Linked DNA regions of Homo sapiens: all the other regions are linked to region 1. Evidence: fine-mapped expression QTL. A gene starts in region 1. Each other region holds a variant in brackets. All regions are shown on one strand. Distances are from middle to middle.

Evidence for each region. PIP is the estimated chance that this variant, and not a neighbour inherited with it, causes the effect.
Region 2: its variant is the best candidate, but not a certain one, in a credible set for the expression of PIEZO1 in left ventricle (GTEx, PIP 0.50).
Region 3: its variant is the best candidate, but not a certain one, in a credible set for the expression of PIEZO1 in whole blood (INTERVAL, PIP 0.55).
Region 4: its variant is the best candidate, but not a certain one, in a credible set for the expression of PIEZO1 in whole blood (INTERVAL, PIP 0.67).
Region 5: its variant is the best candidate, but not a certain one, in a credible set for the expression of PIEZO1 in stomach (GTEx, PIP 0.87).

Annotation. Positions count from the first base shown.
Region 1 is chr16:88,782,869-88,786,868 of GRCh38, forward strand. PIEZO1 (piezo type mechanosensitive ion channel component 1 (Er blood group)) reads right to left here and starts at 2,352. Exons shown (of 51, transcript NM_001142864.4): 1 at 2,033-2,352. The coding sequence starts at 2,096. RefSeq lists silencers at 1,181-1,500, 2,001-2,480, 2,521-2,850 and an enhancer at 1,583-2,496.
Region 2 is chr16:88,728,749-88,732,748 of GRCh38, forward strand. PIEZO1 (piezo type mechanosensitive ion channel component 1 (Er blood group)) reads right to left here. Exons shown (of 51, transcript NM_001142864.4): 20 at 3,859-3,984; 21 at 3,587-3,787; 22 at 2,958-3,162. HSALR1 (HSP90AB1 associated lncRNA 1) reads left to right here and starts at 2,432. Exons shown (of 3, transcript NR_103774.1): 1 at 2,432-2,700. The variant G/T (reference allele first, on the strand shown) is at 1,741.
Region 3 is chr16:88,555,229-88,559,429 of GRCh38, forward strand. No RefSeq gene overlaps it. Among named protein-coding and RNA genes, the nearest start is that of ZC3H18-DT, 4.7 kb to the right of the region's middle. The variant A/T (reference allele first, on the strand shown) is at 2,063.
Region 4 is chr16:88,754,815-88,758,814 of GRCh38, forward strand. All of the region lies in intron 1 of PIEZO1 (piezo type mechanosensitive ion channel component 1 (Er blood group)), which reads right to left. Among named protein-coding and RNA genes, the nearest start is that of PIEZO1-AS1, 14 kb to the left of the region's middle. The variant G/A (reference allele first, on the strand shown) is at 2,443.
Region 5 is chr16:88,720,400-88,724,399 of GRCh38, forward strand. It overlaps PIEZO1 (piezo type mechanosensitive ion channel component 1 (Er blood group)), which reads right to left. Exons shown (of 51, transcript NM_001142864.4): 31 at 3,472-3,572; 32 at 2,827-2,929; 33 at 2,696-2,752; 34 at 2,438-2,610; 35 at 2,184-2,290; 36 at 1,819-1,998; 37 at 1,409-1,667; 38 at 1,139-1,327; 39 at 767-1,031; 40 at 217-349; 41 at 1-133. Among named protein-coding and RNA genes, the nearest start is that of MIR4722, 6.1 kb to the left of the region's middle. The variant A/G (reference allele first, on the strand shown) is at 2,127.

The DNA of each region.
Region 1 (4,000 bases):
GCCGGCTCCACTTCCATCTCCCCCAGGTGACTGAGAGAAAACACTGAGTGAGGCCCAGGCCCCACGCCCCATCCCCAGACACAGAATCAGTGTGGGGTATGGCCCGGGCTTCAGCATCTTTCAAATTAAGAGACTTTATTTGGGACCAGTTTTAGGTTTAAGGAAAGTACCATACAGACAGACAGTCAGTCATCACTATTCTTTAAAAGTTTCATAGAAGACTGACACGGGGCCTGGGTGAGCACCCCTGGGCTACCTCCCCATCCTCCCCAAGGAGGCCAAAAGCAAGAAGAACAGTGATCCCTCCCCCAGATCCCCCACGCGGATAGCAATCGAGAAGGCAGAACCCAGGCCCCCTGACCAATGCCCAGGGGGCAGCAAACCACATGTGCCACAGAATCGGGCTCAACACCTGTTTAGGTACAGCCCATGAACTCAGGAGGGCTTTTACATTTAATGGCTGGAAAAATACCAGAAGAAGAAGATTTTGTGACATGAAAATATTTACCATCTGGTCATTTAAAGAAAAACATTGCCAACTCTGCCCAAGGAGCAGCTGCCATCTGAGAGGGGGGGCATTCCCTGCAGGGAGGACACCCGCTCCCACTCAGACACAAGAGGAAATGGAACGATCAGTGTGAACGGGACGTTTCAGAAGCTTTCCTGTTTCCCTCTCTAAGGCCTGTCAGCTCTAGACTCTGCCTCTGTGCCAGGCTGTCCTGCTTGTTTTCAAGGCACAGGAAGGAACACAGCCGGGCCCTGTTTACGGCCCATCTGACCCTGCACTGGGAGCAGGTCCCAGGCTGCCCAGTCCACACAGGGCTGACCGCACTGAAGAGAGTTGCTCAAAACCTCTCCTCTCCAGCCTCAATGGTTTTCATTGATTCCTGTCTAGAAAATCTTCCCCAAGTTTCACCACCTTTCTGTGCGACCGATCAAAACGCAGTCTGTCTGGGAGCCTCAGGCAGGCGGCTCTAGATCCCCAAAGCTAGCGCTGGGCGAGCTCCCACCTGGAGCGAGGCAAGGGCTCCGAAAGGGCTTTTACAATCAAAAGGCCCCACCTGCCGTGTCCATGGCGGACTCCCAATGCAAACCGTCCCACTTGTCCGTGGGTTAATTCCATCCGACTGCTTCCCAGATCAATCACACGTGGGGAGCCCCCGGGCGGAGGGCGCGGACCCTGGGTCCCGGCTAGGCCAGGGTCGGGGAAGGGTAGGGGTGCCAGGCCGTGCAGCACCAAGCCACCCGGGTGTGCTTCGCGAAAGGGGCACCACTGCCCGGCAAGCAGGGAACACAGATGCCAGGACTGGGGACCCCTGCCCCGCCCTGACACCAGGCCACAGCCTCCGGGGGTGTCCCCTCCCCCAGACCAGGGCAGAGGCCGGCCCCCGCCCCTGCGAAACTGAGCCCAGTAGGGCAAGGGAGGACCAGGGAGGAACCCACACTATTTTTTTCCAAAGTGTGGGACCGCCTCAGTCCGGCAGAGGGGGGTGCAGCGGTGAGCGGGGCTGGGCCCTGGGCACGGACGTTCGTTGGGCTCGGGAAGCTCCAAATTAAACAGCTCCAGGCAGGAAGCCCGCCTTCTCCCAGATTGTCAGGAAGTCCTGATGCAACTTTGCGCTTTTTTTTTTAAACCCGAAAGAGAAAAAGAGATTCGTGCTCCCCCCACCACCGCCGCGGCCCTTCCCACCGGGGCAAACACCGCCTCGCCCGGCGGCCTCCTCTCCGCAGCGCCCCGGCGGAGACGCCAGCCGCGCTATGCCCGGCGCTCGCTCGACCGCCCCCGTGGGCACGCGGTGCCGTCTCCCCCAGCCGCCGCCGCCCTTCCAGCCCGGCCCTGGGACAGGAGCCCCGCCGCCGCCTGGCGCGCTCATGCTTCAGGAATGCGGGCGCCCGGGTCGCGCGTCCCTGGGAATTTCCGCGCCCGCTCGCCCGCAGCCCTCGCCCCGGCCGGCGTCGTCCGGTGTCCAGGCCGTGGGGAGCCGAGACGCAGCCCCCTCCCGTCGCCCCCAGGCGCCCGCCCCCCACTCACCAGCCAGCAGCGCGCAGGGCAGCAGCAGCCAGTACAGGACCGCGCCGAGCACGTGCGGCTCCATGGCTGGAGGGCCCAGGGCCCGGCCCAGACCGAGCGGACGCCGCGGCGCTATGGGGCGGTGCGGGGGCCCCGGGGCCGGCGCGCCATGGCTGACCCGCGGGGACCCGCGCGCCGCCTTCTCCTCTTCCTCCTTCTCCTTCGGCCGCCCCGCCGGTGCCGACGTCCCGGGCCCGCGCTCGCTCAGGCGACCGCCCTGCCCCTCGGCGGAGCGCAGCGCTCGGCTCACTGGGGCCGAGCTGGGCCGGACGGCGGCTCCCGCCCTCCTCCGCCCGCGGGCCTTTATAAGCTCGGCCCCCTCCCGCCCTCCCCGGCGTGCCCGCCTCCGCGCTTCCCCGACGGCCCGGCGCGCCCAGGCACCCCCTCCGCTGTCCCGCGCGGCCCGTCCCGCCTCCGGCCCGCCCTGGTGCGTTGGGGCCTGGAGACCCCCGACTGGCGCTGGCCCGGAGCGGACCCCTCCCCTCCCGCAGTCTTGGCCCCGCGGCTCCGAGCGTGCGCGGCGGTGGGCAGGGGCGCTTCTCGCTGGGTGGGCTGCGGCTGGGGCCCGGGCGCTACATAAGGGGTCCCGGGGCCTCTGGCTCCCCCAGGCAGCGCCCCACGCGCAACTGCACCCCGCGTGCCCGAGCGACTTTCGCTTTGCTCCCCGAGGCGCGAGCACGCAGCGCCCCCTGGGGACCGTGGGGAGGCTCGGAGTTCCCGCGGCGGCCGGGCCTAGTGGTCCCGGAGGGAGCACGCGGGATGCTCGGGTCGCAGCAGTGCCGCGATCCGCGTTGGTCTGACGGGGGCTCGGGGGCTGCTCCCAGCCACGCCGGCCACCGCGCGCGGCTTTGCCCGGGTCGCTCTGGCGTGAGACGGTGAGAGTGAGAGCCACGGCCTGTGCACCTGCTGCCGCGGCGCCCTGCCACGGAGAGGTAGGGTCTGAGTCCAGGGTGTTCGGGACCCTCACCCAGGCCACGTCAGTTTGGCCTTCGTCTGCCCTTGAGATGGGCACAGAAAGAGGGCAAAGGGCTCTACACCGTTTAATTGGGCTCAGTTCATGGCTCTCAAACTCAGCTGCGTAAGGCAGGGAGTGGGGCTGGGGGGACTGTGGCCACTGAGCCTCAAGGCACTGGCAACTCATGAGAGCCCAGCACAAGCCCACACCCTCCAGCTCAAAAAAAAAAAAAAAAAAAAAAGATGGCGGGGCAGTGGCTCAGGCCTGTAATCCCAGCACTTTGCGGGGCTGAGGCAAGGGGGTAGGGGGTCGGGGGATCACTTGACGTCAGGAGTTCGAGACCAGCCTGGCCAACATGGTGAAACCCCGTCTCTACTAAAAATACAAAAATTAGGCCGGGCGCGGTGGCTCACGCCTGTAATCCCAGCACTTTGGGAGGCCGAGGCGGGTGGATCACCAGGTCAGGAGATCGAGACCATCCTGGCTAACACGGTGAAAACCCATCTCTACTAAAAACATAAAAAATTAGCCGGGCGTGGTGGCGGGCTCCTGTAGTCCCAACTACTCGGGAGGCTGAGGCAGGAGAATGGCATCAACCCAGGAGGCGGAGCTTGCAGTGAGCCGAGATAGCGCCACTGCACTCCAGCCTGGGCGACAGAGCCAGACTCCGTCTCAATAAATAAATAAATAAATAAATAAATAAATAAATAAATATACAAAAATTAGCCGGGCGTGATGGCAGGCGCCTGTATTCCCAACTACTCAGGAGGCCGAGGCAGGAAAATCGCTTGAACCTGGGAGGCAGAGGTTGCCGTGAGCCGAGATCATGCCATTGCACTCCAGCCTGAGTGACAAGAACGAAACTCCATTAAAAAAAAAAAAACCACCCAGAAATGGAGATTTTCATGGGAAGTCTAGTGTTTAAAGGCTGATATAGGCCGGGTGCGGTGGCTCACGCCTGTAATCCCAGCACT
Region 2 (4,000 bases), 54 kb before region 1:
GGAACCCAGGACATGCTGAACTCACAGCCCCATCTGCCACAGAGGGAACCTCGCGACACAAAAACAAAGTGACCCTCCATGCTGGGGAACCCAGGACATGCTGAACTCACAGCCCCATCTGCCACAGAGGGAACCTTGCGACACAAAAACAAAGTGACCCTCCATGCTGGGGAACCCAGGACATGCTGAACTCACAGCCCCATCTGCCACAGAGGGAACCTCGCGACCCAAAAACAAAGTGACCCTCGATGTTGGGGAACCCAGGACATGCTGAACCCACAGCCCCATCTGCCACAGAGGGAACCTCGTGACCCAAAAACAAAGTGACCCTCGATGCTGGGGAACCCAGGACATGCTGAACCCACAGCCCCATCTGCCACAGAGGGAACCTCGCGACCCAAAAACAAAGTGACCCTCGATGCTGGGGAACCCAGGACATTCTGAACCCACAGCCCCATCTGCCACAGAGGGAACCTCGCGACCCAAAAACAAAGTGACCCTCGATGCTGGGGAACCCAGGACATGCTGAACCCACAGCCCCATCTGCCACAGAGGGAACCTCGCGACCCAAAAACAAAGTGACCCTCGATGCTGGGGAACCCAGGACATGCTGAACCCACAGCCCCATCTGCCACAGAGGGAACCTCGCGACCCAAAAACAAAGTGACCCTCGATGTTGGGGAACCCAGGACATGCTGATCTCACAGCCCCATCTGCCACAGAGGGAACCTCGCGACACAAAAACAAAGTGACCCTCGATGCTGGGGAACCCAGGACATGCTGAACCCACAGCCCCATCTGCCACAGAGGGAACCTCGTGACCCAAAAACAAAGTGACCCTCGATGCTGGGGAACCCAGGACATTCTGAACCCACAGCCCCCATCTGCCACAGAGGGAACCTCGCGACCCAAAAACAAAGTGACCCTCGATGCTGGGGAACCCAGGACATGCTGAACCCACAGCCCCATCTGCCACAGAGGGAACCTCGCGACACAAAAACAAAGTGACCCTCGATGCTGGGGAACCCAGGACATGCTGAACCCACAGCCCCATCTGCCACAGAGGGAACCTCGCGACCCAAAAACAAAGTGACCCTCGATGCTGGGGAACCCAGGACATGCTGAACCCACAGCCCCATCTGCCACAGAGGGAACCTCACGATACAAAAACAAAGTTACCCTCGATGTTGGGGAACCCAGGACATGCTGATCTCACAGGATGGCGACTGCATGGCGCAGCCGCGTGGAAGGAGGCAGAAGAAGGGGAGCTGGCCTAGGTGACGCTTGATAGCAGGTATTTCAACAAGGAAGAGGTGGACAGGAGACGGGGAGCTGGCCTCGGTGATGCTCGAAAGCAGATGTTTCAACAAGGAAGAGCTGGAGGGCCCAGAGGCTGAGGCAGCCCTGTAGCAACAGGCACACCCAGCGCCCAGACCCCGGGCTCTAAACCTCACGCTCCTAGAACTCGATTGGGCTCCCTGGAGCAATGGCTGTGAGCACAAGGCTGGGCCTGGGTAGCAGAAGATGAGGCAGCAGCGCCTGGGAGCAGAAAACAAGACGGGGCCGGGCGTGGCAGCTCACGCCTGTAATCCCAGGAGGGAGGCCTGTAATTTGGGAGGCGGGTGGATCACCTGAGGTCAGGAGTTCAAGACCAGCCTGGCCAAGATGGTGAAACCCCGTCTCTACTAAAAATACAAAAATTAGCCGGGCCTGGTGGTGCTTGCCTGTAATCCTAGCCAC[G/T]AGGGAGGCTGAGACAGGAGAATTGCTTGAACCCGGGAGGCGGAGGCTGCAGTGAGCCGAGATTGTGCCAGTGTACTCCAGCCTGGGTGACAGAGCAAGACTCCATCTCAAAAAAAAAAAAAAAAAAAAAAAGGGTTCTTGCTATGTTGACCAGAGTGGTTTCAAACTCCTGGCCTCAAGGGATGCTCCTGCCTCAGCCTCCCAAAGTGCTGGCATCACAGGCGTGAACCACCATGCCCAGCCAAATACGGGGAGATGATGTAACAGTGTGTGGCCGGAGGGGCCAGGACCCACTCAGCAGAGGGGAGGCCCAGGGTCTGCGGATGACAGAATTCTTGGAAAGCAGCCAGTAACAAATGGCAGCTGTCCTTGATGGGAATCCCAGCTGACAGACACACAGAGACAGCAGAGAGAAAGTCTGTTTCGTAAAACCACAAGGCTGACCCCACACAGCCCACCAGTGCCAACAGGCTGGGTGCCACTGTGGGGCAGGTGGGACGCCCCTGAGCCGGCCACGTGCACAAATGTGACTCCCCATCTCAGACCGCAGGGTGCTGTGTGCCTTGAGCAGACCTGCAGCACCAGGACAGCCACGCAAATCCAGTCTCACGGCGTCAGCAACGCTACCGGCCTCCCTCCGGAACTTCCCAAGAGACAGGAGAGGCGGGGGCGGCTTAGACCCAAGACAAGAGACTAGAGCAAACATCAGACCAGATCCCGTCTGAAAACCAAATGGCCACAAAGAAGGGTGCTGAGGCCGGGGCTGTTTGAATGCAGAGGACACGTTTGACGATGGCACTGCCAGGAGACGGGACCACGGGTGTGGGGCTGTGGGCTCAGACACCCTCACCCAGGAGACGCATGCTCGAGGCAGCACTTGGGTGTGAGGCATCACGGCCGACCCGCACGGGGCCCGGAGAGGACGCAGTGCTCCTTGTGTGACTCACAACTTTCCTGAAGGTTTGAAATATTTCAAGATAGAATACTGGGCAAAAAAGGAAAAGAGAACAGCAGAGCCTGGAGGGGGCCAGGCCGCCCCCGAGAGACAGGATGCAGGTGATGGCGCCTGGGTAGGATGTGGAGCAGAGAGGAGGGACTGGAGGAGGCCAAGGCTAAGTCTAGGAGGGTGGACAGGAGTCTGGGGCAGGCGGGAAACACCCCCACGGGCATCCACAAAGCCACAAAGCCCACTCCCACCCAAGCCACGTGCCCCTCACCAATGCACAGGGCCGGGGGCATCCCCAGGCACAGCAGGTACTGGTACAGCAGGAACAGCGCCAGGAAGAGGCAGTAGTTGGGCCAGAGGCGGGCAATGGCCTGGCGGTGCCTGCGGGTGAGGATGGCCACCAGCCAGCAACCGTGCAGGGTCACCAGAAAGTTCATGCGCTGCCCGATCACGTTCACGGCCATCAGGAAGCAGATCTGGGGAGGGGAGAGGGCGGGGTGTGGGGATGCACTGAGTCTGGGGGGAGGGACTTTCTTGTCCCACCCAGCAGGCCTCAGGCTTGCAGCAGCCCTGCCTGGAGGCTGCGGGCATCAAGCAAGGACAGGGCCAGCGGCGCTGTCAAGAGGGCAGGAGTGGCTGGCAGTTGCCATCGTGCAGGGGAAACTGAGGCTCCAGGAGGTGGGCTGTACAGTAGAGCAGATCTAACTTGGCCCCCTGCCTGTTGTCAGCACCGACACACCACAGGAGTCCAGGGAAGCCGTGCCTGGCCCTGAGTCCCCCACCCTCTGTGGCCCAGGCAAACCCAGGTGGGGCCAGGCTTGCGGTGCCTGCACGGTGCAGCCGTCCCTCCCTCCCGAAGGCCAAGCCCTGCCCCAGGGGGAGGCAATGTCCTTGCCTCACCTCCAGCCCGAATTTGTAGAAGAAGAAGTTGATGAAGTACTTGAGGCAGCCGAGCAGATCCTGGTCCAGCTGCTGGCGGGTGCCGCTGGCAAACACGGCCTGGGCAGGCAGCGGGGCCAGCTGGTGCTGCCGGCGGTAGTGCTCCTGGCGCCGGTACACGATGGCCTCGAATACCAGCAGCAGCAGCACTTGCAGGTGGTTCTGCGGAGGGCAAGGGTCAGGGGGCAGCCGGGTACTCGCCCGCCCAGCCGCCCACCAGCCCTTCAACTCACCTGGATGTAGCCCAGGTTGGGGAACCCTTTCCGCACCCCAAACCAGTTGGCAGGGTCCACGGGCCCCCGGTACAGCAGGGACTGGCTGATCTCCGTGGGCAGCAAGTTGGTGCTGTTGGGGAAGGGCTGGCAAGAGGCCAGG
Region 3 (4,201 bases), 230 kb before region 1:
CCTCATCCTGCACGCCTGACCTTTCCCATCCCAGGTGTTATCATAACCTTTTAGCAGAATTTTGCCTTAATTCTCAGCATTTTTGGCTTTCTTTTTTTTTTTTTTTTGATAGAGTTTCACTCTTGTCACCCAGGCTGCAGTGCAGTGAGGCGATCTCGGCTCACTCCAACCTCCGCCTCCAGGGTTCAAGCGATCCTCCTGCCTCAGTCTCCCAAGTAGCTGGGATTACAGGCGCATACCACCACACTCAGCTAATTTTTTGTTTTAAGTAGAGACAGGGTTTCGCCATGTTGGCCAGGCTGGTCTTGAACTCTTGACCTCAAGTGATCTGCCTGCCTCAGCCTCCCAAAGTGCTGGGATTACAGGCATGAGCCATTGCACCCGGCCCCCATCCCAGTGTGTTACCATAAACTTTTAGCAGAATTTCCGCTTAATTCCCAGCATTTTCAGCTCCAAGTCTTAACACTTCCCCTCTGTCTTAATGTGGCTCCAGTGGCCCTTCGTCTCTCCCCTGCCCCTTCCATGCCTCCCGCCCCATCCCCACCCCCTCTGCCCACCCCCTGGCTCCTCTCCACCCCCAGCCCCTCCACAGCTCTTTGTCTCCACCTCTAAGACTGGGGCTCCTGGAAGCCACTGGTCCTCATCTTATTATCATCCTGGTCTCCACGGAGCCCAGGACGGAGACTCACACAGCTCAGTGGAGCGTCGCCAAGCTCGGAGGGCACGCAGCACCCTAGCAGCACCTGCAATGGCACCTGTGCTCTCTCTCGGGAGGAGATGATGGCCCCAGCTCAGGGCCCAGAATTCGCGCCTGACTGTGCCCCCTTCCGGACCTAAGGACCGCCCTCTGCTGTGCTGGGACTGCCTATGTCTAGACAGAGCGGGGCTCACTCCCCGACCCAAAGGGTTCCCCAGAGTGTGGCCCCATCTCCAAGGCCCTGCTGCCCCCACTGAAAACCCGCCCAGCCCATGGTGAGCACCGCAGAATTCACAAGGCGCTTCCTGCAGACACTTTCTCCCAAGCGGGCCATGCCTTCATTGCTACTCAGATCTCCCTAAAGCCACTGATGTGGTTTGGCTCTGTGTCCCCATCCAGATCTCATGTCGAATTGTCATTCCCAAGGTTAGGGGAGGGGCCTGGTGGGAGGTGACTGGATCACGGGGGTGGATTTCCCCCTCACTATTCTCAGATAGTGAGTTCTCACGAGATCTGATGGTTTTAAACTATGCGGCACTTCCCCCGCCCCCCACTTTCTCTCTCTCTCTCCTGCCGCCATGTGAGGACGTGCCTGCTTCCCCTTCACCTTCCACCATGATTGTGAGTTTCCTGAGGACTCCCAGCCATGCTTCCTACACAGCCTGTGGAACTGTGAGCCAATTAAACCTCTTTCTTCATAAATGACCCAGTCTCCAGTAGTTCTTTAGAGCAGTGTGAGCCTGGACTCACACAGTCACCCATTTCCGGGACCTTTACCACCAGGCCAGGCAGCCACCAGTCACTTTACACACAGCATCTCGTTTCCTAGCACCTGGGCGAAAGTGCTGTTTTCAGCTCTACTTACAGGCAAGGATGGAAAACCCAGAGGGTTCAGCCAGCCTCACCTGCTCGGGAGGGCACAGCTGGGCCGCCTGTACTGCCTTAGAAGGAGAAAAAGAGAAATGGAAACAGGCTCCACGCTGGGGGCCACTATTCTTACCTCACCATAACCTCACAAGGACTGAGCACACCACGGGGGCTCAGAAACCAGGGTCCCCGCTCAGAAACTGGTCCCCTCACTCACACGTGATGTGGCCACTGAAAATGGCTGGGTGCCCTGGCCGGGCGTGGTGGCTCAAGCCTGTAATCCCAGCACTTTGGGAGGCCGAGGCGGGCAGATCACAAGGTCAGGAGATCGAAACCATCCTGGCTAACACAGTGAAACCCTGTCTCCACTAAAAATACAAAAAATTAGCTGGGCGTGGTGGCAGGCGCCTGTAGTCCCAGCTACTTGGGAGGCTGAGGTAGGAGAATGGCGTGAACCCGGGAGGCGGAGCTTGCAGTGAGCCGAGATCACACCACTGC[A/T]CTCCAGCCTGGGTCACAGGCAAGACTCCGTCTCAAAAAAAAAAAAGACATCCATGTCCCTAACCCTAACCCTGTGAACGTGACTGTATGTGGAAGAATGGAAGAAAGGTCTTTGCAGACATGATTGAGTTAAAGATGGAGAGAAAGAAGGCATCTGGACAGACCCGACGTGATCATGAGTTCTCCTGAGAGGGAGGCAGAGGGAGATTGGACACAGATGGAAGAGGAGAGGCGTGGGACCACAGAGGCAGAGCAGGAGCTATGCAGCCTCAAGGCACGGGAGCCACGGATGCCTGAGGCCTGGGAACCTGGAAGAGGCCGTGGGGAGCCTTCCCTGCAGCCTGCAGCCCTGCCCGTGCCTCGAGTTCCACTTCATGACTCTGCTATCAGACATCTGGCCTACGGAACTGTGAGGCGATATGTTTCTGAGTGTTTTTGTTGTCACTATTGTTGTCGTTTGAGACAGTGGTGCAATCACGGCTCACTGTAGCCTCGACCTCCTGGGCTGAAGCAAGCCTCCCACCTCAGCCTCCAGAGTAGCTGGAACTACAGGCGTGCACCATCTTTTTTTAGAGATGGGGGTATCACTATGCTGCCCAGCCAGGACTTGAACTCCTGGCTTCAAGCAATCCTCCCGCTTCAGCCTCCCAAGTGCTGGGATTGCAGGTGTAGCCACTGTGCCCAGCCAGCTTCTGTGGCTTTAAGCCGCCCATTGGTGTCACTTGTTACAGCAGACCCAGGACAAGCCACTCAGCTGAATGAGTTTAGAGTCTGATTTTACCCTTTCTGGGCCAGGAATGCCCTGCGGGGCAGGCGGCTGCAGCTGAGCCTTCTAGACCTCTCTCTACTGAAAATACATAAAAGGCGGAGGTTCAAGTGAGCAGAGATCGTGCCACTGCACTCCAGCTCTCCATCTCAAAAAAAAAAAAGAAAAGAAAAACCAAAGTAGCCATTGAGTAAAAAGGGAAATGACAAAAGAGTCTCGCTCTGTCGCCCAGGCTGGAGTGCAGTGGCGCGATCTCAGCTCACTGCAACCTCTGCCTCCTGGGTTCAAGCGTTCATCCTGCCGCAGCCTCCCCAGCAGATGGGATTAGGAGTTAAAGATGTGCGGTGAGTCCCGCGTCCCCCCATGCTCCGGGGGTGTGAGTCGCGCATCCCCCCGTCGGGGGGTGAGTCGCCCGTCCCCCCGTGCTCCGGGGGGGTGAGTCCCGCGTCCCCCCGTGCTCCGGGGGGGTGAGTCCCGCGTCCCCCCGTGCTCCGGGGGGGTGAGTCCCGCGTCCCCCGGTGCTCCGGGGGGGTGAGTCCCGCGTTCCCCCCGTGCTCTGGGGGTGTGAGTCCTGCGTCCTCCCGTTCCCTGGGGGTGTGAGTCAGGCATCCTCCCGTTCCCTGGTGGTGTGAGTCCCGCATCCTCCCGTTCCCTGGGGGTGTGAGTCCCGCATCCCCCCATGCTCCAGGGGTGTGAGTCCCATGTCCCCCTGTACTCTGGGGGTGTGAGTCCTGCATCCTCCCATTCTCTGGGGGTGTGAGTCCCGCGTCTCCCATGGACCAGCGCTGTAAGTCCCATGCCCTCCTGTGCTATGGTGGTGTGAGTCCCGTGTCCTCCCATTCTCTGGGGGTGTGAGTCCCCTGTCTTCCCGTTCTCTGGGAGTGTGAGTCCCATGCCCTCCCGTGCTCCGGTGCTGTGAGTCCCGCGTCCCCTCAAGCTCCGGAGCTGTGAGTCCCGTGCCCTCCTGTGCCTGGTCGTGCAATGTTGAGTTCGGCACTGAAACTCTCTGAGCTTCATTTTTTACCATCAGCACCCTGCTTCCCAGCGCCTTTGGGAGGAGCAAAGGAGAAAGTCGGGCCCAAGGCCCCAGCAAGAGGCCAGCCCTTGACAGCTGTTAGCTGGACTTTGCTTCCGTCCTGAAACAATACAACTTCTGAACCACACGGAGCGCTGTTGGCCAGAAACTCAGAATCGGATGGGTCCCCATATCTGTGTTTTAAAAGTCACTCCAGACTTCTCCAGGGCACAGCCCTGTGCTTCCGGGGCCTGCAGGCTGGGGGGAGGGGAGGAGAGGTGGGCTGCTGGGGACACTCACAGGCACCTTGACTCCCCTGGGCCCCCTGGTGTTCCCTGCCCTTTTTTTTTTTTTTTTT
Region 4 (4,000 bases), 28 kb before region 1:
GGTGGGTGACCCGGGACCCACAGGAGCTGAGGCTGCATCACAGAGCAGGCAGAGACGAGCTGGGGGCATCGTGTGAACGAACGCCCCGGCGTGCCGTCCCGCTCCACGCCTGCACAGGAGCTGAAAGCTGGGGCCCCAGGCCCAGCAGCTGAACCTCCCACCCGAGGACACCTGTTGCGCCCCAGGGAGAGGAGAGGCCTAACCAGAGGGTGGACACACCTGCGGCCATCAGGTCACCGCCGCGGCCATCACGTCACCGCCGCCCCCAGTGCAGGCACGGGGCTGGGTGATCTGTCCCGTACAGTCCTGTGGCACTAGCCGAGGACCACGACTGTCACCTCCACATTGCAGACGAGGAGATGGAGCAAGCCTGGGATGCGGCGAACAGCCGCCCCCGCCGCCCCCGCCATGTGGCTCGGGCCTAGCTGGCTGTGGGGACAGAGTAACTTTATTTAAATGCTAATCTGCTGATTAACCCCGGGTCTCGGAATGCCTCCAGACTGGCTGGTTGATGCATCATCTTCCTGCAGGAGCACCTACTCCCTGGCATTCACGTGCAGGAAAGAAAAAAAAGAGTGTCTAGTCCTCGTACGTTTCTTCCTAAACAAACCCGGTGCTGCAGCAGGAATCTGGCCACCCCACCCGCCACGTTCCCAGCCACCTGCACATTCCTCCCAGGGCACGATACGAGCCCCAGATCGGGCGTTTGGGTTCAGAGCTCTACCTGCCTGGAGGCTGCCTGAGGCCATGTTTCCGTCTGTAAGTTCCTGCCAGTAAATAGGCGGGTACCAACACACTTGCTCTGTCTGCCTCCTTTTATTTCCCGGCTCCTTCAGTATCTGGGGGTTGCTTTGCTTATACCGCCTTTTCACCGAACGGTGGCGCCTACCCTCAAAGCTCCCATCTCCAAAGGGGACAGTGCAGAAGGCACCATGAGAGGCCGGGGGCCCCCAGGCCAAGAGCTGCAGAGCGGCCTCACAGGAGAGCCTCGGGCGGTGGACAGGTGGGGACCGGGTGGGACCAGCAAGTCTGAGGAGACAGTGGCGCTCAGGAGTCAACCTGGCCAGCAGATCCTGACATGAGAAACCGGGGCCAGGGGGTGGCAATTCCTGGGTTCCCAGCACAGGGCAGAGCCTCGGAGCGGGGAGGGCGGGGGCCACCCAGGAGCCAGGACAGCAGAAGAAGGAAGGACTGGGGCCTGGAGTCCAGGTGTGGCCCAGCACTTGGGTCCAGGGTCACAGGAGTGAGCAGTCAGAGGTGTCCTCAGCCATGGAAGGTATCACACACCAGGCAGGGAAGTGGGGCTCTGCGGCCGCCATCTGGGAGCCTCGAGGGTGGTCTATGCTCTCGGGGTGACTGTCCACTCCTCACGGGCACCAGGCCACAGGGAGGGTGTGCAGGACGCCCACACCCAGCCCGATGTCCACCAGGAGCTCAGTCTTAGGCATGGAGGCACCTGCCCAACCTGGGTGCCTAGAAGGATCCTAAGAGGCCCCTCCACAACCTGGAGTCAGTCGTTCTGCCTCGGGACTCTGGACCCCACAATGGCCGCACTGGCCACTGATGGGGCGGGGTGGGCTAATGGACCGGAAGGATCTCGTGTGACATGTCCTCAGGAACCACACCCACCTGAGTGCTGTACAAAACTGGTGGCTGGGGCCGGGCACCGTGGCTCACGCCTGTAATCCCAGCACTTTGGGAGGCCGAGGCGGGAAGATGGCTCAAGCCCGCCATCTCATGGTCAGGAGTTCGAAACCAGCCTGGCCAACATGGTGAAACCCCATCTCTACTAAAAATACAAAATGTATCTGGGTGTGGTGGTGGGTGCCTGTAGTCCCAGCTACTTGGGAGGCTGAGGCAAGAGAATCGCTTGAACCTGGGAGGTGGAGGTTGCAGTGAGCTGAGATTATGTCACTGCACTCCAGCCTGGGCAATAGAGCAAGATTCCGTCTCAAAAAACAATAAAAATAAAAACAAACAAGCCAGGTGCAGTGGCTCATGCCTGTAATCCCAGCACTTTGGGAGGCCGAGGCGGGCAGATCAGAAGGTCAGGAGATCGAGACCATCCTGGCCAACATGGTGAAACCCTGTCTCTACTAAAAATACAAAAAAGTAGCCGGGTGTGGTGGCGGGCACCTGTAGTCCCAGCTACTTGGGGGGCTGAGGCAGGAGAATGGCGTGAACCCAGGAGATGGAGCTTGCAGTGAGCCGAGATCAGGACACTGCACTCCAGCCTGGGCGACAGAGCGAGACTCCGTCTCAAAACAAACAAAAAATGGGTGGCTGGGGAGCCGCACTGGCCCTCGGTCCCTGGGGAAGGGAAGGGCTGAGGCAGGCAGATGGCAATCCAGGTTTAGACTCCAGGTTAGACCACCTGGAGGCTGAGCCCTCGGAGCCGGGGGCTGGAAGACGCGATGCATTGAGGTTAGGAGGAGGGACCTC[G/A]AGAGAGCTGGCAGCGCAGCAGCACCTGGTGCAGGCCCTGGGTATGCAGGGGGCGTTGCTGGCGGGGGGGTGGGGGGTAGTTACCTAACCTGCCTGCTTTCCCGTGTGGTTAAAAGGCTCCAATGACAGTGCCTGAGAGTGTGTGGACACTGGCAGCCTGTGAGAGCAGGGGCGGGTGGGAACAGGTCTCCAAAAGGACTGACGGGGCCTAGGAGACAGGAGAGGGACAGGTGCTTGAACAAGGGCTGGGGGCCAAGACGGGGGAAAGAGCTTCTCAAAGGAAGTGGAGCCAATGGGCTGGACTGAGATCCCATCTCCACCTTCTCCAGGGCTTCCACACCCAGGAAGGAGAGCCCATGGGTTGAAGCTTCGTCACCTGGGAAGCAGGAGAGCCCGAGGGTTGGAGTCCATGACCTGGGGGTTCCTGGCCCTGAAGGAGCCAGGCTGCGGGCCGGAGCTGGGCCAGCTGCCATGGCTGGAGGCATCACTCTCCTTGGGTCCTCCCAACAACCTAAGGGTGGCACCATCCCACCCCACAGACAGGCGAACTGAGCCCAGCATGGCCCAGCAAGAGACTCAAGTCACAGGCAGACTCCCCCAGCAGCCTCAGCTCCAGCAGATGCCCCAGGAGGCAGGAAGGGTCTGGGCCAGTTATCACAGATTTCACAGACTCCAGCCAGCCTCAGAAGGTGCCACAGAAAGGCCTGGCTGGACACCCCTCCGCCACCCTCTGTGCCTCTACTTCTCTGCCCTGACCTAACTGGCAGAGAGGATATAGGGCTAGACGAATAGGCCCTCCGGGGTTGGGGACAGAGCAGCTGAATCCTGGGAGGAATCCCCAGGAGCCTCCTCAGCCCTGTGGTCCCACTATTTCAAGCATGGGTGGGTTCCTGGAAGCGGCTGCCCGGACTCTCCTCCCACAAGGAGATGGCCATTGAGGAGCAACAGCCCTCTCAGCCCAAGTCCTTGTGCACCGAGACCAACTGTGTGGCCCTCAGTCTGGCATTCAAGGCTCCCACCACTCTGGGTTAAGTGTCAGCTGACCCTGTGGGCTTCCTGCCACTCCCTGACAGACCAACATCGTGCTGCATCCCAGCCTTGGCCCCAGCAGTGGCCTGGCCTGGGGGCAACCCTGGCTTCTGTGAGCTCTGTCCCCACCCATCGTCACTCAGCCATCCCCAGGGCTCCTCCTGCTGTGATGCCAGTCATACCCGTGGCTCATAGCAGCTCATGCGTAACTGCTTCTCCCTGAGCCTATGACAGAGGCAGTGCTTGGAAATGCAAACCCACTGCCCCCACTCCACAGGCACCCACGGACTCACAAGACACAGCAGATGCAGGAACAGCCTCGGCACCCACCTGCAGAGCAGGCCAAGCGGCAGGGGGTGCGGCAGAACCCTGTGGGTCGTGTCTGTATGTGCCCTGCAGAATGACACCACTGGGCTCTGGCCCTGACCTCTCACAACTGCTGAGATGACCACAGATGAGCCCAATCTCCTCTGTCTTAGTTTGTTCGTCTATAAATCAAGAACCATAACTCCCTCCTCACAGGATTGTC
Region 5 (4,000 bases), 62 kb before region 1:
GCCAAAAATGATGATGATGAAGTCGACAACATCAGCCAGGAACATGAGGGCATAGACGTCGGTGGCTGCGCGGTACTTGGTGTGCAGGATGTCGTGGAAGAAGCGCCGTAGCGGCCGATATGTGCCCTGGGCCCTGCGGAAGGGGGCGCTCAGCCTGGGCCCAGTACCCGCCTCCCCACCCCCACTCCCCAGCTGCCCCCGGCCGCCATCACTCACAGGGACAGGCAGAAGCCCTGCAGCCGCCGCCCGGCCGCCCTTACTCTTCCTCCAGAGCGGCTTGGCCTCTTCTCTCTCCCCGTGGGGGCCTCTTTCTCTTCCTCCCCCTCTTCTTCCTCCCTGTCCTCAGCTTCTGTAGGGAAAAGCTGACTTCTGCCTGGGCCCCCTGGGGACTGGGCCTGGCTCATGGCTCCTGACCACCCTAAGAGGCTGGCATTCTCCCTGTTTGACAGACAAGCAGACGGAGCACAGGAAAGCTCCCAGTGTCACTGGCAAGGAGACAGCTGGGGCTGTGTCCTCTGTCTGGGGCAACTGTGAGGGGCCAGCCCAGGCCAACAGTCACCCTACACGTGGGGAGCATCCCCGGGGGCAGCAGTCAGGGACGGCTCTGTAGGCAGAGCCGGGAGCTGTGGCTCAGAAGTGGCACCTTCCTGGGATCCAGGTGGGCCTCGCACTGGGCTTGGCCGTCTCATCTGAGAAAGACCCTCCCTGCAGTAGCCCCACTCAGAAAACTGGGTAGGCAGGAGGTTGTGAGGCAGGGCGCTTATACCGATGGCTGCCGCTCCTTTCCGTGCTGGGCCCTCCTTCTTCCTTCTTCTAAAACGTAGACTGATGCGCCTCGTATCACGGGGCCTGAGCTCCACTTGGGGTTCTGGGGTCCCGTCCGTGGGTCCGACCCTGGCTTCCACCTGAATGTGGTCTTCGGTGGTGGCCGCAGGCACCCCTGGCCCCTCCTCGGCTCCCTGCTCCTCCTCGCCGCTCTTGTCATGCTCCTTGGATGGTGAGTCCTCCTCATGGTCCCAGAGGCCATAGCACTGAGGGGCGGGAGGGTGTGGTGAGGGGGCCTTGCCTCCCTGGTGGAGAGCACAGGTGCCCAGAGGGCCTGCCCAGCCCCGCATTGCCAGCCAAGGCTCACACTCACCAGCAGCTGGGAGCGGTGGAAGAAAAGGGCCATGAGCTGCACCAGGTCGTACTTGATGTAGCCGTCAGTCTTCTCCAGGCCCAGGATGCGGGGCGGGAAGTAGGGCTTGTTCTCGTAGCGCCGCAGCACCACGTGGCTGTTCCAGGGGAAGAACCCAAACTGGAACAGGTACTTGACGACCACCGCGATCTGTGGGGGAGGGGGCTCAGCACGCGGGGAGGGTCACGGCGCGGTGGGCCGGGCGCCCCCTCCCCCGCGGCCTCGGCCCACCTCGGTGAAGACGATGGCCGTCATCCAGAAGCGCTTGCTGGGCCTCGGGATCGACAGCATGGCCCACAGGAAGACGAGCACGGGCAGCACCAGCGAGCCGGCGGAGGCCGTGACCATGTGGTTGAGGATGATGATGAAGTAGCAGAGCAGCTCCGAGTGGGCGGCCACACACTGGTACACGGCCCGCAGCAGCCGCAGCGCCCGGCCCTGCCCCTCCGCAAACAGCTCTGCCTCCTCCAGCTCTGGGATGCGCAGGCGCCTACAGGGAGACCCGCGTGTTTGGGGGAGTCTGGGACTGCCCGAAGGCATGACGGCCCGATCTGTTGCCGGTCACAGTCAGTCTCCTGCCCCTGTTCGGCTGCTCCCCGAGGGCCATGGTGAGGCTGGTGTTGTGCGCGTCCCGCCCCCACCTGTCCAGGAGCAGCTCGCTGGCCGTCCGCATCAGTCCCTGGTACAGAGAGGCACCAGCCTCACGCTCCCCGGGGTCGGTGACTGCCTCCTCACTGCCACTGCGCGTGTGGTAGCCGGTGCTCAGGGGGCTGCCCATGTCGTCTGTCATGCTGCTGAGTGGCTCCTCCGCGCCCAGCCCACTGGGGAGGGAAGCCGAGTCACAGAGAATCCTGCTCTATGGCCTGACCCCAGGCTACAGGGAGGGTCAGGGTGGAAAGTGCCCACGGTCCTTTGGGGTACAAGGGAATGGCGAGGGTCGGGGATGGCT[A/G]GGCGATGCCCACACACCAGGGGCAGCAGCTGGGGCTCGGGTCACCCCCGCACCTACCTGGACACGGTGCTTGGGGCATTGGGGGCCTCGGTGGGGCCTGGCAGCGTGGCCTCGGCCTGGCTTGTGTACAGCTGATCCAGCACGCCCCTGTGCACTTCGCCGCCCTGCAGGGCACAGCAGGGGGCTCAGGGCTGCGTCCAGCTCTTGTCCCCACACGGGGTTTCGTGCAGTGGGCGCGGGACTAGGCTGTTAAGCAGGCAGGGGCGTAGTCAGGCAGAGCAGGGACGAGCGTGGTGCACGGGCAGGCTCACCTGCAGGAGCTCCTGTGTGAGGAGGTAGCGCTCTGCCCGCAGCACGTCGCTCATGGTGCCGTGGTGCCGGGTGAACTCCTGCAGCCAGCGTGTCAGCTCATCCACTAGCGCCTGCCCCAGCATCCACAGGAACTGCGCCGTGCTCAGCACCCTCTGCACCACATGGCTCCGGCCTGCGGGAGGGCGGGAGGGGGCGCTGGAGGGGCAGCCTGTGGGGCCAAGAGAGACCTCCCACTCCCCAGCCCCGGGCCCACGTACCTGCCGCTGCCTCCTCGGGGCCCTCTGCTGGCTCCACCTCCTGGCTGGGACCACCTCCTGGGCACAGGATGCTGGTGAGTGACTGGCAGTCCCGCGGCTTCCCCTCAGAGTCCCCACGCCCCCCAGCTCACCTGTGGGTAGCTGTCCTGCCTGTTCCTGCCTTGCCTGCTCCTGCTCCTGCTGCCGCCGCCTCAGCACCGCCTGGGCGTTGGTCACCCATGCCTGGTACGCCAGCTGTCGGCCAGCCCCCGGGTTAGGACCCGGCCTCCCGAGCCATCAGACCCAGGCGGGAAGCTGGGGTTGGGCAAGCCGGGCGCCAGATCCAGATCCCTGCTCTGTGTCTCCCAGGGACCTCCGTGTCCCTGAGCCCCTCCCGGATGGGGACCCTGAGGGGCTGTGGGGGAAGACTCCCACCCATTCAGGAGTTGGGTGGGCTGGTCTAACACCAAGAGCCAGGGGCCCAAAGATGGACCCAGGACAGCCAGGCGGCCAGCACAAAGGTGTTGGGCCGGTCTCACAGGTCAGGCCACGGGCAGCCACCAGAACCTGGGTGGTCAGAGCCAAGACCGTGGGGCAGCAGGCTACACATGACCCATGTCCCTGTAGCCTGGTTTCCCATGGGACTTGGGAGGCCTGGATGGGGCGGGGTGGGCTAACTGGAGGTGGAGGAGCTCGGCTCCCAGGCCCTGGGGGCATCTGACACCCTCTATGCTGCCCTGGTCCAGGACCACAAGCTCTGTGGTTGGAGTGGGGCCGACGGGGCTCTCCCACCTCACCTGGAAGGCACTCTGTGCCGACGGCCTCGGGTCTTCAGGAACAGCCTCCTCCTCTTCCTCACTGTCGGACTCAAACAGGAAGTAGTCCCCGGAGTGGATGACTGTGGGCAGGCAGCACTGAGAGCCAGCCTTCCATGCAGGGAGACTCCCAGCCAGACCCCCTCCGCCTGCATGGGCCAAGGCCCGAGAGCCACCCTTCCCATGCGGAGTAGCCGGGAGCAGTGCAGGCACAAGACACAGGCCAGCGCGGTGGGACAAGACAGAGGTGGGCAGGGCAGCTGAGGAGCAGAGCCAGCGCGGGCTGGGGTGCAGAGTGGGCCGACTGCAGAGGACCGGGGAAAACCCAGGAGGCTGTGTGAGAGTTAGAAAAACAGAACAGGCCGGGCACGGTGGCTGACGCCTGTAATCCCAGCACTGTGGGAGGCTGAGGCGGGCGGATCACCTGAAGTCAGAGGTTCGAGACCAGCCTGGCCAATATGGTGAAACCCCATCTCTACTAAAAATACGAAAATTAGCTGGGCGTGGTGGC